Homo sapiens: one gene and its partners. The protein of the gene in region 1 interacts with the protein of each later gene in a pairwise test. Each region holds a gene or a part of one and is shown in the gene's direction. Other genes may lie near its edges.

Region 1 (3,500 bases):
TGGCCCAGGCTGGTCTCCAACACTTGAGCGATCCTCCCGCCTCAGCCTCCCAAAGTGCTGGCATCATGGGTGTCAGTCTCCTGGCCCTGATATCTTTTAATTCTAGTCCAAAGCCACAGAGTTTCTCTTTGCTTCTCCACATCATGTCTGCAAAGAGAAGCTTGGCTCCCAGCAACATCAGCGTGAGTTACCCATGCTCAGTCCCCTATTACTAAGAAAATAGTTTCAGAATTGCTATACCCAGTTCCACTACAAAAAGGGCATCTGCTAAGTACAGTTTGCGATGTGTTTGTAGTTTTTTTAGTTTTTATTTTTATTTATTTTAATTTAATTTAATTGTATTTTTTGAGACGGAGTCTCACTCTGTCACCTAGGCTGGAGTGCAGTGGCGCGATCTCAGTTCACTGCAACCTCTGCCTCCCAGTTGCAAGCAAGTCTCCTGCCTCAGCGTCCCGAGTAGCTGGGATTACAGGCGCCTGCCACCACACCTGGCTGAGTTTTGTATTTTTAGTAGAGGTGGGGTTCCAGCACGTTGGCCAGACTGGTCTCGAACTCCTGACTTCAGGTGATCCACCTGCCTCGATCTCCCAGAGTGCCGGATTACAGGCATCAGCCACCACGCCCGGCCTCTTTTTGTTTTTTAAACGTAGAGCACAGTACTCAAAAGTTACTTCTATGATTTCTTGTTTATTTTCTACGGAGTTGGCTGTGCTGTTCATTTGGACAGGTTTGCTTTACCTGCTTCTGTTGGCATTCAGTTTTAGGGACTTGCCCATCCTTGTTGATGAATTTTTTGAATATAGAAATCATTAACATGATGCCAGAAGTCAGAACTCTATCCAAGAAGTGTACACAGAGAGGTATTATCTTTAATAAGCCATTCCGGGCCCAGTGCAGTGGCTCACGCTTATAATCCCAGCACTTTGGGAGGCCAAGACGGGCAGTTCGCCTGAGGTCAGGAGTTTAAAACCATCCTGGCCAACATGGCGAAACTCTATCTGTACTGAAAATACAAAAACTAGCCGGGCATGGAGGTGCACGCATGTAATCCCAGCTACTCAGGAGGCTGAGGCAGGGGAATCGCCTGAACCTGGGAGGCGGAGGTTGCGGTGACCTGAGATTGTACCACGGTACTCCAGCCTGGGTGACAGAGTGAGGCTCCATCTCAATCAGTCAGTCGATCAAATTAAGTTTTAAAAAGCCATTCCATGTCAGCCAGGCTAAGTCCTGAGAATTGTCCGCTCTGGTCCTCGCGTCTCTGGGAACATGTGGCAGTGAGGATGGACGTTCCTTGCCAAGTGGCTCTGTTCGGCATAGTAACGTCTTTGTCCTCTTTTTAGCTGCAGAAGCAGAACCACAGACTATGACTTGGTCGGAGGCGATCAGCTCAACTGTCACTTCGGCTCCATCCTGCACACCACAGGGCTGCAGTACAGGGACTTCATCCACGTCAGCTTCCATGACAAGGTGTGGACGCTGCAGACAGCGGCTCTTCACTTCTTTTGGGTCCTGGAGCTGTTAGAGATTCTGATGGAAGTTATGAATTATTCTTCCCGTAATTCATAGACACACAAACACACTTCTAAGTCCTGTGTACTATTTCAGAGGGGCCACAGACTCTGGGGGAGCCACACAGATGCCCTGGTGCAGGTTCAGAACCCAGGTTTCACATAAGATAGAGACGTCTTCATCAGAGATAGCGCGCTGTGTTTCTTACCTCGCCCTTCTGTTGAGGAGTGAAATCCCTCAGTATTAATGCCGCATGGCCTTCTGGGATTCGTATCGTCGTCCTGGGTTGTGAGTGCCATCAGTAGTGTAGTGTAGCAGGTCTGGCACTCTGGGGGGGTCACTGTCACCTTGGGAGAAGCTGCAAAAGCCAGCTGTGGGCCGGGCACAGTGGCTCACGCCTGTAATCCCAGCACTTTGAGAGGCCGAGGCGGGTGGATCATAAGGTCAGGAGTTCGAGACCAGCCTGGCCAATATGGTGAAACCCCATCTCTACTAAAAATACAAAAATTAGCTGGGCGTGGTGGCAGGCGCCTGTAGTCTCTGCTGGTCGGGAGGCTGAGGCATGAGAATCACTTGAATCCGGGAGGCGGAGGTTACAGTGAGTTGAGATTGCGCCATTGCACTCCAGCCTAGGTGACAGAGCAAGATGCCATCTCAAAAAAAAAAGCCAGCTGTGCATGGCTGCAGTGCTGCGTGTTCAGTGTCGCTCGCTGTCTCTCCAGGTGATTCTCATAGGCACCGCAGCGGGAGGCCTGCTGGCGCAGATCGGCGGCTCTCCCACTTTGCTGCCCAGTAGAACCTCTTGAGGAGCTTTTAACACTGCTGAGGTCCAGGCCGCACCCTGGGCCAGTTCAATCCGAATCTCTGGGGAGGTCAGAGAGAGGCTAAGAAAACAAAGATCCTTTTTCATGTAGAGCAGCATGGTTTATGAAGGCCAGTCCCTGCCAGAGTGGGTCCCACTGTGTAGTGAGCGTGAGTGGAGAGGCGGTGTCCCCTCCTCTCTGTGCCGCAGGACTTGGGCTGTCATTGCAGACACTGCAGGGCTCCGACTTTGCGTGCTGGTGCGTGTGTTCACTGTTTAGGCCCCATGCTTGTTTCTTGCTCCTGCAGGTTTACGAGCTGCCGTTTTTAGTGGCTCTGGATCACAGGAAAGAGTCTGTTGTGGTCGCTGTGAGGGGGACCATGTCTCTGCAGGTAACGTTGGAACCTGACTTTCCAGCCCTGGGAGTGGGTGCGGGAGCGGGAGCCCACAGCTGCTCGGCTGGGGAAATCCGTCAGTAACCGCATGAGACACAGGGGAAAATGGTGAGGACAGAAAATGAGGATGTGAGCCTGGGGTTGGGAAATACTCCCTTTGCAAAAAGGGATGAAGCTGTTTCATCTTCACTGAGAACTGTCAGCAGCAGAGCGGCCAGCAGGTTGGCCCCCCCGCCACAGGAGCTCCCAGAGGGCACCTGCTTGACCCCTCCCTGCCTAACTTCCCTGAGCCCAGCCAGGCCCCACACCCGGGAGCCCTCCCGGGGAATTTCTGCACCAGAGCCAGATGGCGGCAGTGAGTCAGTCTTGCTGCAGAGAGTCACGCCCCTGGCCACCAGCCCCGCTGGAGGCTCCCGGTTTGGATCCTCACAGGCCCTCGTGGCCTGCCGTTCTCCAGGTGAGGTCAGGACTGCCGACATCCATCCCCAGCCCATGGCCCCTCTTCTGTCTTCCTCAGTCCATACTCCTGGGCCCCTTGGAGATGCCAGGTGACGCTTTCCTTGTCAAAGCTTTCTTCTCTCCATTCCGGTTTCCTCCTGGCCACTCCTCAGTCTCACTTCCCGTTCTTCTCTGCTGACCCAGAAAATGAGTTGAGACTCCAGAGCCTGTGTGCTCAGCCCTCTTCTGCTCCTGACTGGCTCTGGGGTAGCCCCCCTAAGTCCAGGGCCAGGACCCCAAACTTGCATCTTCAGGAGCCATCTGTGGGTCTCCCGGGAGGCACCAGAGAAGCCACA
Region 2 (3,500 bases), on another chromosome or scaffold:
ACATAATATATATGGAAACCAAATTCAGGGTTGATTCTTTCTTTCTTTCTCCCTTCCTTTCTTTCTTTCTTTCTCTTTCTTTCTTTCTTTCTTTCTTTCTTTCTTTCTTTCTTTCTTTCTTTCTTTCTCTCTCTTTCTCTCTTCCTCTCTCTTTCCCTCTCTCTTTCTGTCTTTCTTTCTTCTCACTCTGTTGCTTAGTACAGTGGCGCAGTCTCGGCTCACTGCAACCTCCACCTCTTGGGTTCGAGTGATTCTTGTGCCTCAGCCTCCCAGGTAGCTGGGATTACAGGCATGCGCTATGAAGCCCGGCTAATTTTTGTATTTTTAGAAAAGATGGCGTTTCACCGTGTTGGCCAGGCTGGTCTCAAACTCCTAACCACAAGTGATCTGCCCACCTCAGCCTCCCAAAGTGCTGGGATTACAGGCATCAGCCACCACTTCCGGCCCGGGGATCTTTCTGTTTCAGTTGTGGGCATCACTCTGAAAATCACACTTGCTAGAAGTGAGCATTTATATCTCTTCTCCACTGTAAATAAGTGCCTCTTAGTGACATGAGTGGAAAGACAAGAAGAATTGCAGTTCCTTCATTTTCTGTCTTAGCTCCCTGAGATGTATATGCTGTGCCTAAATTTGTGTTATAGTTTTCTCCTTTGATTTGACATTCCTTGATAGGCAGAGAGCACTTTTCTGTGCTCATATGTCACATCTCGCATCTTTTTCCCTTATAGAAAAACTCTTGTGTCTCCCATTTACCTTTCTATGAGGTCAGAGATTTAGATACTTTCCTAGACAATCAACTGGAGTATTAACAAATTCAAGGAGTTCTCGCCATCCCATTACTGGGTATATACCCAAAGAATTATAAATCGTGCTGCTATAAAGACACATGCACACGTATGTTTATTGCGGCACTATTCACAATAGCAAAGACTTGGAACCAACCCAAATGTCCATCAATGATAGACTGGATTAAGAAAATGTGGCACATATACACCATGGAATACTATTCAGCCATAAAAAAGGATGAGTTCATGTCCTTTGTAGGGACATGGATGAAGCTGGAAACCATCATTCTCAGCAAACTATTGCAAGGACAAAAAACTAAACACCGCATGTTCTCACTCATAGGTGGGAATTGAACAATGAGAACACTTGGACACAGGAAGGGGAACATCACAAACCGGGGCCTGTCGTGGGGTGGTGGGACGGGGGAGGGATAGCATTAGGAGATGTACCTAATGTAAATGACGAGTTAATGGGTGCAGCACACCAACATGGCACATATATACATATGTAACAAACCTGCATGTTGTGCACGTGTACCCTAGAACTTAAAGTATAATAATAATAATAATAAAAATTCAAGGAGTTCTTATCTCTGTAGTTTAAATAATAAGCGACTTAGACTAATGACAACAAAAAGCCAGCCATGTGAATACCAAATTTACTAGTTCTGTGAGGATATTTTTTTCTCTTTCTCTTTCTGCCTCAAAGAATCTGCTTTGCTTCCCCTGGCATCATGATTTAGTTTTCAACCCGTCAGAGTCTTCCTGCTAGTGCTGGTACTTTCCTACTTGAGAAAGTCCACGGAATACCTTCGAGACCTCTGTCCTCCTGATGGCTTCTATTTCATTTGTTATATAGGGACCCAGAGGTCCTTCATCATTTTCAAACACATCAACAGATATTTATAGCAAGGCCACAATTAATAAAATGTTTCCCAGAATATATGTGTGTGTTACATTTAGAGGAAACAGAAGTAGTATTGACTTGTTTCTATCACCAGAGGTCTATTTAGTAACTATATTTTGTGGAAAATATCGATATATTTTATCCATTCAACAGACATGATTTGAGAGCATACCACGGAGACCCAACCCTGCCAGTGTGGCAGGTGGTATAATAGAAGAAAATAGCAAACTTGGTGTATCTGTCTTTGCGCACATGTATGTATGTGAGGGGCACTAAGGATGACTTTACAGAGGTTGGAACTTTTGAGTAGAGTTGCCAAGATAGGGAGAGTTCACTAGGAAAACAGAAGGGAAGTTGATTTTTTTTTTTTTTTGAAATGGAGTCTTGCTGTGTCGCCCAGGCTGGAGTGCAGTGGTACAATCTCGGCTCACTGCAACCTCCGCCTCCTGGGTTCAAGTGATTCTTCTGCCTCAGCCTTCCAAGTAGCTGGGATTACAGGTGCGCGCCACCATGCCCAGCTAATTTTTGTATTTTTAGTAGAGACAGGGTTTCACCATATTGGCCGGGCTGGTCTTGAACTCCTTACCTCATGATCTGCCTGCCTCGGCCTTCCAAAGTGCTGGAATTACAGGTGTGAGCCACTGCTCCTGGCCCGGAAGTTGATATTCAAACAGGAGCAGCATATGCAAAGACAGTGAGCTCTGAGAGAGTAGATGGATCCAGACTCCTATTGCTGATAGCGTCCTGCAGGATTGGGCTTCAATGTGACTAACCTACAATTGCCTCCAGGTGCTCCACCCACTGAGTCCTTGTGTCTCTGCTGAGGTCCTTGGAGAGTTACTGGAGAGGGCTCTGTGTCAGATGACCTTGAGGAGGCTCTGATTTAGCCTTTTGTAAAATGCAAAGAGTTGAGGTCTTCTCCACGCAAGAGCTCGCTGATGTCAATGAGGTATTGAGGATGGGGCCATCTCCTATTTCTGTGGCCAGTACTGAGTTTTGTTATCCTTCCTTTAGGTAAGGAGTGCCAATGGACCGATGCCTGCCTGTCTCATCCCTGTGCAAATGGAAGTACCTGTACCACTGTGGCCAACCAGTTCTCCTGCAAATGCCTCACAGGCTTCACAGGGCAGAAGTGTGAGACTGATGTCAATGAGTGTGACATTCCAGGACACTGCCAGCATGGTGGCACCTGCCTCAACCTGCCTGGTTCCTACCAGTGCCAGTGCCTTCAGGGCTTCACAGGCCAGTACTGTGACAGCCTGTATGTGCCCTGTGCACCCTCGCCTTGTGTCAATGGAGGCACCTGTCGGCAGACTGGTGACTTCACTTTTGAGTGCAACTGCCTTCCAGGTAAGGAGCTCCCTAGTGTCCCAGGATTAGGGGACAAACCCCTAGCACAGGAGGTAGTGGGTGTGGCTCAATTGCTTTTTTTAGGAAGCGCAAGGAAAAAGGGAAGTGAGAATTTTGTGTGGGGTGGGTTGCTAGTGAGGGAGGAGTTTTATGGGCCCACTGTGGTCCATAAACTGAGCAGGGGATAATTTAGCATGTCAGGGTTTATGATGATGAGTGGCTAGAAAATTGTTTATTGTCCCTTTTGTAGAAACAGTGAGAAGAGGAACAGAGCTCTGGGAAAGAGACAGGGAAGTCTGGAATGGAAAAGAACACGATGAGAATTAGACACTGGAAAATATGTATGTGTGGTTAATAAAGTGCTTTAAACTGAATTGACATTAACAGTGGGTGATCAACTTTACTATGTGCTTGTGCTTTTGCTTTTGATGGAGTAATTCATTGTTTTCTTATCCACC
Region 3 (3,500 bases), on another chromosome or scaffold:
TGTCAATGAGTGTGACATTCCAGGACACTGCCAGCATGGTGGCACCTGCCTCAACCTGCCTGGTTCCTACCAGTGCCAGTGCCTTCAGGGCTTCACAGGCCAGTACTGTGACAGCCTGTATGTGCCCTGTGCACCCTCGCCTTGTGTCAATGGAGGCACCTGTCGGCAGACTGGTGACTTCACTTTTGAGTGCAACTGCCTTCCAGGTAAGGAGCTCCCTAGTGTCCCAGGATTAGGGGACAAACCCCTAGCACAGGAGGTAGTGGGTGTGGCTCAATTGCTTTTTTTAGGAAGCGCAAGGAAAAAGGGAAGTGAGAATTTTGTGTGGGGTGGGTTGCTAGTGAGGGAGGAGTTTTATGGGCCCACTGTGGTCCATAAACTGAGCAGGGGATAATTTAGCATGTCAGGGTTTATGATGATGAGTGGCTAGAAAATTGTTTATTGTCCCTTTTGTAGAAACAGTGAGAAGAGGAACAGAGCTCTGGGAAAGAGACAGGGAAGTCTGGAATGGAAAAGAACACGATGAGAATTAGACACTGGAAAATATGTATGTGTGGTTAATAAAGTGCTTTAAACTGAATTGACATTAACAGTAGGTGATCAACTTTACTATGTGCTTGTGCTTTTGCTTTTGATGGAGTAATTCATTGTTTTCTTATCCACCTAAATGCACCCAGCTGCCCTTGATTTTCTCTGGGCTACTGGCCTTCACAACCCTCTCCCATGTACCCTCTCTGACTTTGGGGTAACCCTCCCCTAACTTAAAGCTAGAGAATTCTGAAACTGAGGAGGGGATCCTCTGTTAATCAGTGAGCACTTTTTGATGAGCTGATAGATGATATATGAGAGACTATGCGTGGCACAATACTTTGTTACACTCTTCACTGATACAAGTGTTCTAGAGTGCACACACAACCCAAAGATAGAAATAAAAAGAGGAGCAGTGTCGGGGAGCTTGGGGCCTGGTGTTCCATGGAGAGGGAGAAAGGAACAAGCTTGGCCAATTCATTCAACTCCTTATAAAAATGATGAGGAGGCTGAAAACCAAGAATTTTGATTGGGAACAGAATACAAGCAGCTGAAGCAGATGAATTACTAAGCAACAAAGATCCTGTTTTTATACAAATATCCTTAGTACAAAAACAAAAGAAGGAAAACTGTAGGGGGGAGTAATGTGCTAAGTAAGCAGAATTGCCTCCAAAAGAAGTTGTTCTAGTTACTCTTTCAGAGTGGGAATCTTAGATTCTGGTATTGTGGATATGGTTCACATATAATGGGATTGTGTGTTTTATTTTGGAGGAATTAAAGGTCATAGTTTGGTCCTCAGTATAAAATCAACTGGTAATTTGTTCATTTCATTTGGTAAAAATGTATTGACTGCCTGCTATGTTCTAGGCACCATGCTGTGTATTTGGAATACAGCTATACAAAGCATTGTCACATAATTGAAATGAAAATTTTATATTATTTAAGTCACAAGAACAAGCTATTTAATTATATTACTTTTAGTTTCTCTTTTAATAAAGAATAGATAATGCTATCATTCTAGATACTAAATAAGTATTTTCTTAACATAATATTACTATCCACTTTATCTTGTAGAAGAAATAACTAAAATACATCTGTCTTCACTCCTGTATTTGTTTGCATTTTAAGGATTAAAGACAGAAATAGAAATGTAAACAACTTTATTTTGAAAATATTTCAACACTGCAAATATCTCTGGGTCTGATATTCTAGTAATCTAATTGGCTAGTAATTGATGTTAGTGTGATTTATTGTTGAAGGCTAAATGTGTTTTTCAGTTTCAAGAAAATTGCTTTTAATAATTGCCTAGAACAAGAGGTTGATTTGGCAGCAAGATGTTGACGGGAAGTTAGAGAAGTCAATAAAGGAAGTTTTTAGCTGAGAGAGAGTGATTATTCACTCCCATAGCCTCTGCATTGTTATCCATTAGCCACGATAAGAACCTTAGGGAATTCTGAGAGTGTGTCCAGGAAAGGATCTGTCAAACTAGAATAGTATCTCCTCCTTGAGAAAGGAAATAACCAAGGATTCCGCAGCTGAGAGGCTGCCAGGGCTAGTGAAATAGAGTAAGGAAATCTTGGCTGTCTCTTATTCTCTGGTTGTAGTTTAACGCAAGACACTTATTTACTCACTGATGGTGTGTGTGTGTGTGGGAGGGGAGATTAGCATGAGGGGTGGGAATGGGGAGATTTGATGAAGAGAAAACTAACATTTTTTTGGTGACTCAGGAACTGTGCCAGGTACTTCCATGCTTATTAGCTCAATTACACAAAAATCTTGGGACCAGGTATTATTTTTCAAGTCTTCCCACATGAAGTAACTGAAGTTTGGAGATGTTAAGTGATTCACCCAAAGTTGTACAGCTAATATGTGGTTAGGCTGGGTCCTGAAACCGAGGCAGTTTATTTTCAAAGCCTTTGCTTTGTGCATCTTACTGCGCCACATTGCACTGCACATCTGCTTCCTGAAAGCACTTTGTAGGTGTGTAAAACTTTTCGTTAAATGCTTTAAGCTGTTTGGGTTAAAAATATATGTTCATGTTATAAGAAAACCAAGACACTCCTAATTATAATCAAATAGTACTTGTTACATATCAATATGTGTGTGTGTGTGTGTGTGTGTGTGTGTGGTATATATATATATATCGCATTGTGCAGATGTTTAAAAGTAGTTACATAGACTAGTTCTTGCTTTTCAGGGTCCCATAATCTAAACCAGATGACTTCAGCTTTGGATAAATATATAGAAGGAAATTTAAAGAGAATTCAAAACAATAGATGATGCAGTGACACTGTGAATAAATGTTATTTATACAGTTTGTAAGATTTCATGCTCATTGTTCGTATGTCCCAGGTGGAGTTCAGAAAATATTCAGTTCATTTCCACAAAGGGAAATAGTGCCTAGAGATGGTTTTCTTTTAAAAAGTCCTTTTCATAATGCAGTGCCCTTCCTTCCATTGCCCTTCATTCCATTGCTTCCCATGCTTGTCAAGAGACTAAAATGTTACTTATAGTAATAGTCACTATCTCAATGTAAATAGCACCCTTATTTGATGAGAATTATTATTTCAGTTCTAAAAATGGGGAAACAAAGTCAGCAGGAGGCAAAGTAGCTTGTTAAAGTATTCTGCAACTTTCAAATGGTTGCTTCCACTGCATTTCACGTCTTGGCACTTCTAATTGAGGGTTACTCTAACCACCCTATTTAAAATTGTAACTGTCCCCCACCCCCTTAATTACTAACCCTGGTCTACTTTTTGTTTTCTTTTTCTGTAACTCTTATCTTCTTACTATATAATTTATACTATATAATTTACTTCATTATGTCTATTGTTTATTGTCTGTCTTTTCCAAATTCTACTGCCTCTTACCCTCTCCAGAATGAAAACTAGTATCTTTGTTTTTGTTTACTGATGTAACCCAAACACCTACAAACAGTGCCCAGTATATACTAGGCCCGCAAATATATATTG

What was found. The genes of interacting proteins can lie anywhere in the genome.
Region 2: the proteins of DAGLB (region 1) and NOTCH2NLA interact in a two-hybrid assay, tested with the Homo sapiens proteins (one large-scale study listed by BioGRID).
Region 3: the proteins of DAGLB (region 1) and NOTCH2NLC interact in binary tests that used the Homo sapiens proteins (3 or more experiments, as listed by UniProt).

The regions. Positions count from the first base shown.
Region 1 is NC_000007.14:6,423,955-6,427,454, reverse strand, and holds part of DAGLB (diacylglycerol lipase-beta), read left to right. Parts: intron 1-1,340; coding exon 1,341-1,467; intron 1,468-2,619; coding exon 2,620-2,703; intron 2,704-3,500.
Region 2 is NC_000001.11:146,156,022-146,159,521, reverse strand, and holds part of NOTCH2NLA (notch homolog 2 N-terminal-like protein A), read left to right. Parts: intron 1-2,706; coding exon 2,707-3,042; coding exon of another isoform or gene 3,043-3,230; exon of another isoform or gene 3,231-3,292; coding exon 3,293-3,369; 3' UTR 3,370-3,500.
Region 3 is NC_000001.11:149,463,621-149,467,120, forward strand, and holds part of NOTCH2NLC (notch homolog 2 N-terminal-like protein C), read left to right. Parts: coding exon 1-206; intron 207-456; coding exon 457-533; 3' UTR 534-3,500. UniProt on the Homo sapiens protein: Human-specific protein that promotes neural progenitor proliferation and evolutionary expansion of the brain neocortex by regulating the Notch signaling pathway.